2 separate regions of the Homo sapiens genome follow, and region 2 is linked to region 1. Evidence: fine-mapped expression QTL. A gene starts in region 1. The other region holds a variant in brackets. All regions are shown on one strand. Distances are between the middles of the regions.

Region 1 (2,900 bases):
GGCTTTTGACCAACAATAACGTATGACCATGACCTTGTGGCCGAGTTTGCACGCCTCTAACAGATATTATGACACAGTTCCATTCAATAGTGGAAGTGGAGATTTCAGCGTTGCCCTTTGTTAACCCACAAATGAAGTGCTACTCTTCCATTGTGAGGGCTGTCGGAGCAGTAGCCAACCTTCTTATCCCCATTTTTTAAACGAGGGAAAGGAGGCATAGGAAGCGCAGTGTCTTGTGGGATTCCCTGGGGAGTCCTTCCAACTCTTGGTAGAGCATCATCTGCAACGTCGTCTGGGGGAGAAAAGGGGGAGGCAAGAAGAGGGCCTTGACCCTGGAGGCAGGAACTCCCGCACACCCTCACTCCCTTCCCCAGGGGCTGGGGAAACCACTCAGGTGACAGTAGCCTTGGTGCCGGCCAGGGAGGGCGGGAAGTCCAGCCAGAGGCTGGAACAGCAGTGCTGAACGCCGGGACTGGCTGGTATTTCTATGAAGGTTCCTGCAGAAGGATGCGGGTCAAGGTGCCCGTCTGCACAGCAGTAGTGCAGGCATTTTAAGGGTTAAGGGCACCCAAAGAAAATAGAAGTAGGGGCCGGGCGCAGTGGCTCACGCCTGTAATCCCAGCACTTTGGGAAGCCGAGGCGGGCGGATCACGAGGTCAAGAGATCGAGACCATCCTGGCCAACATGGTGAAACCCCGTCTCTAGTAAAAATACAAAAAATTGGGCGTGGTGGCGCGCGCCTGTAGTCCCAGCTACCCGGGAGGCTGAGGCAGGAGAATCGCTTGAACCCGGGAGGCGGAGGTTGTGGGGAGTCAAGATCGTGCCACTGCACTCCAGCCTGGCGACAGAGCGAGACTCCATCTCAAAAAAAAAAAAAAAAAAAAGAAAGAAAATAGAAGTAGGAAGAGGAAGTGGGTCGCAGTGAGAGAAGGAAGCAGCTCGTCGGAGCTTCCTCTTTCTCGTCTTTCCCCTAAGCCCCTACCCCAGACCTGCCCCCCTGCTCCGCCCAGCCCTCCTGCGGGGCCAAAGCCGCGCTTCCGACGCGGGGGCCTAACCTCCCCTTACTCCTTGGGGGTCGCTGGTGCTCCGCGCTGGTGCCCCTCGGGCCACTGCCATGGACCGGCCAGGGTCTGCTTCTTCCGAGGGCTGGCGGGTCAGAGCCGGGGCTGCTTCTCAGACGCCTTGCGGCCTCGGGGGCGTGACCCAGAGGATGTGGGGCCGGGCGCGCACCTGGCTGACGCTGCCGGGCCGCCAGGTGGCTGGAGAGGCCGGCTCCGCGGTCAGCCCCGCCCCATTAGGCCCCGCCCCCTGACAGGCTCCGCCCCGCCCGCCGGAGGAGCCCAGGCTGGGCAGATGCTGCGGCTCGCCGCGCGGCTCCAGCTGGGGCGCGGTGGTCCCGACGGTCACCCGAATCGCAGGGAGTCGCCGCTGGAGAGGGGCTCGGCGCCCGGCGGGGACTGCAGGTGTGTGACTGGGCGGCCAGGGCGGATGCGGAGGGCACGCATGGGAGCTCCAGGCAGAGCTGGAGCAAGCTGGGGACCGTCGGGGAGAGTGGGCTCCGCGAGCAGCCGCCGCAGCCCGAGGGCTGGACAGATCCTGCTATCTTCCGGCCCCGTGGACCTGGCCCACCGCGGGGGCAGCGGGTCTGCAAACCTGCGCTCCAGATAACCCCAGAGACTTAAGGGGCGTCGCGGGGACCACTTATCGTTATCCGGGTAACCTCTGCTGGGCGGCTCTGCGCAGCTGTGTCCTCAGCCTCCTGCCTCTGACACAGGACGCCCTGTGTCGTAGGGTCAGGTCCCCTGCCCGCTCCAGCGGGGAACTGTCCGTGAGCGTGGGCATCAGGGCTCTTGTGCCGTCAGAACCTGGGAGTCATGGAAGTGCCCGCGTAAGGCGCCCTCCGTCGAGCCTCACTCAGCCTGCTAGTTAGCCAGCCTTGGGCCCAGACGCGGCTGCTGTCCTAGAGAACTGCACGCTTTCTGCTCTCAGAGGATCTGTGTTTACACACTGGACATCCCCGCGTGACTCGTGTGTGTGTGTGTGTGTGTGTGTGTGTGGGCATGCGCATGTGCGCGTGCTGGCCCATCCCGGCCTGGGGTAAATACACAAAAAGTTCAGGTCAGTAGGAGGAAGGAGATTGTTCAGAAGGAAAAGGAAGGCGAGGTTAAAGCAGCAGGATGTGGTATAAAGCGAGTTAACAAGACTCGGAGTAGAGAGGAGGGGTGGGTTTAGGCAGAATAAGGGCTAAAAGTAGGCCAAGCCTGCCTCCAAGGTCCTCTCTGGACTGACACCCTCGTTTTCCTTCTGTGTCTTCTCATCCACCCCACACTTTCCTTCCTGCCCTCAGGACCACCTGTAAGGCACTGGCTCCCAGAGCTGACTGCAGGTAGGGCTCTCTTGGAGCCAACCCTACAACGTGGCTTTCCAGGGATGGGATCTGGAATCTGTAGTTTTCAAAACTTTGAATGAGCTCCTTAAGTGATGATGCTGAAGCCGTTGCTTGGGAACCATGCATGATGTGGAAAAGAGACCCAAGTTCCAACCGGATCCAGCTGTGTGACCTGCAGCATCACACTGTCCCCCAACCCAGCCTCAGTCTCCTGATTCATAAAATGGGCTGTCATACTGACCCATAGAGCTGTGTGGAATTATTATTATTATTATTATTGAGACAGGGTCTTGCTCTGTCACTCAGGCTGGAGTGCAGTGGCGTGATCATGGCTCACTGCAGCCTTAAATTCCCAGGCTCAAGCAATCCTCCGCCTCCGCCTCCCAAGTAGCTGGGATTACAGGTCAGCACCACGGCGCCCAGCTAATTTTTGTATTTTTTGTAGAGGCAGGGTTTTGCCATGTTGCCCAGGTTGGTCCCAAATTCCTTGAGCTCAAGCGATCCGTCTACC
Region 2 (2,900 bases), 84 kb after region 1:
AGGAAAGGAGAGGCCAGACTCCTGGAGTCACTCCTCTGTGACTGGCAGCACCATCTTCTCTGGGGGGACCACAGGAAGAGGCCGGGGTCCAGTTGGGGAAGAGCTTGAGTTTGGGTCGGGACATATTATTGAGGTTGAGAGGCCTTGAGAGGTATAAGGAGACAGTGAGAATAGACGGCTGGCTGAACGGGCCTGACTTTGTGGTGAATATGAAGATGGGTGGACAGCTGCTAATGGAAAAAGGTCACGGAGGAGACTCCTGAAGGGGGGAAGCAGGGAATACAAAGAGCAGAGGACCAAGGGGAGAACCTTGAGCCCTTCATGATGTAATGGCGGGCAGAGGGCAGCGATCCAGCAAAGCAGAGAGGCACCAGCCAGAGAGGCGCTAGAAAAACCAGGAAGGTGCCATCACGAAAGCCCAGGAGAGGTTTTCAAGGAGGGGAGAGCAGTGAACTGTAAGGTCAAGTAAGCTGAGGACCAAGAAGTGTTCTTCGGTTTAACAACATGGAGGTCCCTGATGACAGAGACATTCACACAAAGACTTGAAGAGGGGGTTCAGGTCTGGCTCTGCCAGAAACAGCATGTCTGTGGGCCCAACCCTTCTTCACTCTGGGCCCGGCAGGAGAGCTTCAGGACCACCCCTGCAGGTGCTCTCAGCTCTTGTACCTTTCAACCTGGTCACAGAGGCTGCTGACCCCTAGACCAAGCCAGTGACGTGAGCTCTTCCCTGGAGTCATCCAGGTCTATCCAGGGTGGTACAGGGGCCCTGGTGAATAAGAGAGGGCTTTCTGGGGATATGCTAACTAGAGGCAACCCCCTGTCACTGATGGGCCTTCAAAGAGAAGGCAGCAGGCACCGGGGCCTCTGGACTCAGAGGGTCTGGCTACACTGCATTTCCAGGGGGCCATCAGTGGACGAAGTCGCTGGAGCAACCTGGAGAAGGTCTGTACCTCCGTGAACCTCAACAAGGCCTGCCGGAAGCAGGAGGAGCTGGGTGAGTGGGGTGGTCAGTGTGGGGTGTGCAGTAGGGAGGTGCTCTGAGCCTGGCCTGAGTGTCCTTGCCCCTCAGATTCCAGCATGGAGGCCCTGACGCTAAACCTGACAGAAGTGGTGAAAAGGCAGAACTCCAAATCCAAGAAGGGCTTTAACCAGGTACGGGCTTCCCTCTCCTTCCAGCCATACCCTCAAGAGACTTACT[G/TACTG]GAGCGTGCATGTGCGTATGTGTGTACGTGTGTGTGCACATGTATGTGTGTGCATGTGTGCACATACACACCCGTGTGTACATACTTGTGTGTGTGTGAGAGAGAGAGGAGAGGTGGGGGAGGAGAGGCAGGGTGAGGGGTATGATTTGGGGATGCACACAGGTGTGGAGTGTTGCGGGGTGTCGGGGAGGTAGGGGTGCCCTGTGAGAGGACGCGTGTATGTGGAAAAGTTGTGGGGTGGGTGCCAGGAGAGTCCTAAGACTCTGAGACCAAAGAAAGCAGGCTCTGGATCAGGGGACCTGGGGCTGCTCCGGTGAGGGCAGCAGGCAGGGCAATGTCTCCTCAGGGGGCACTTGCTTCTTCCAGATGCTGGAGAGGAGGCAGGGGCTGATGGAGGCCTCAGGCTCCCTCCTGTGACCTGGCCATTAACCCTGGAGCGCAGTCAGACAAACCCCTGCCCTCCCACACCCCTAGAAGTGGATGGGCAGTTCTGAGAAAAGGAACTGCCAGGGGCTGGCAGTGTTGGATGGCCAGGGATTTGGGGCTGACCTGGGCCTTCCTTCCAGATTAGCACATCGCAGATCAAAGTGGACAAGGTGCAGATCATCGGCTCCAACAGCTGCCCCTTTGCTGTGTGCCTGGACCAGGATGAGAGAAAGATCCTGCAGAGTGTAGTCAGGTAGGAAAGGGGGGTCCTAGGGAGGGGAGCAGTTTCTGCTCCCACCAACCCAGAGGCCTGGAAGGAGCTGGAAGGATGGGGGCCTGCTCTGATCCCTGGCCCCTGCCCTGCTGCACAGATGTGAGGTCTCACCGTGCTACAAGCCAGAGAAGAGCGACCTCTCCTCACCACCCCAGACGCCTCCTGACCTGCCGGCCCAGGCCGCACCTGATCTCTGCTCCCTTCTCTGCCTGCCCATCATGACTTTCAGTGGAGCTCTGCCCTAGTGTGGGCCCAGCGCCAGACTGGACAGAAGCCCTGGGGCAACCTCCTCGGCCACCCCTCCAGGACAGTCCCTCTCTGTGGAGAACTGAATGGCCCTGTGCAGAGCCATAGTCCCACTGTGGGTCCTGCAATGAGCAGGGGCTGGGAGTAGAGGGTTTCTGGGGCCTCAGGGTTCTGGGAAAGCAACAGCTATCAGAGAGAGAAGGGCCAGACCCCATAGCCTCTTAGATTCCTGGCAGTAGAAGGAGAAGGATGGGTAAATTGACCTCTGAAGTCCCTGACCATTAGCATGGTCTAGGATCCTTTCTAGAAGGAAGATCTGAGGCTCTGGTGCTCAGGGGGATGGCTTGGGCCTTTTCTCTCAACCTTGGCTGAGCCTACCCCTTACTTTGCCAAAGACTTGAGGACCCTGTATGTCTGGAGTTCAGTCCCCTCCTCTGTGGGGCTCAGGTGATTGAAATGTGGATGAAACATTTCTCTACTTCAAGACCACCTCTCCCTGCAAACACCACACACACATGGCATGCATGTACGCACATGCGCACACACACACGCACACACCTCAATAATTTCTCTCAAGTTTCCTGAGTCTCCAGAAAAACAGCACTAACGCTGGACCTGTCTACTCTCAGAACCCGGCACAGATTCTCTCTTGATCTCCTTTTGGAATCTGAGATTCTTAGAAGACAGGATAGGGTTAAATTTAGTAGCAGCTCAGTTCTAGCTAAATCACTAGAGGAAGTTAATTAACTTTAAGCC

What was found.
Region 2: its variant is fine-mapped to the expression of PIK3R5 in whole blood (INTERVAL, PIP 0.91).

Annotation. Positions count from the first base shown.
Region 1 is chr17:8,964,159-8,967,058 of GRCh38, reverse strand. It overlaps PIK3R5 (phosphoinositide-3-kinase regulatory subunit 5), which reads left to right and starts at 1,352. Exons shown (of 19, transcript NM_001142633.3): 1 at 1,352-1,463. It overlaps PIK3R5-DT (PIK3R5 divergent transcript), which reads right to left and starts at 1,212. Exons shown (of 3, transcript NR_184080.1): 1 at 1,056-1,212; 2 at 1-292. RefSeq lists silencers at 939-1,038, 1,109-1,428.
Region 2 is chr17:8,879,882-8,882,781 of GRCh38, reverse strand. PIK3R5 (phosphoinositide-3-kinase regulatory subunit 5) reads left to right here. Exons shown (of 19, transcript NM_001142633.3): 16 at 901-994; 17 at 1,070-1,152; 18 at 1,765-1,877; 19 at 1,996-2,900. The coding sequence ends at 2,143. The region is part of intron 1 of LOC124903919 (a long non-coding RNA gene); the gene reads right to left. Among named protein-coding and RNA genes, the nearest start is that of PIK3R6, 14 kb to the right of the region's middle. The variant G/TACTG (reference allele first, on the strand shown) is at 1,199.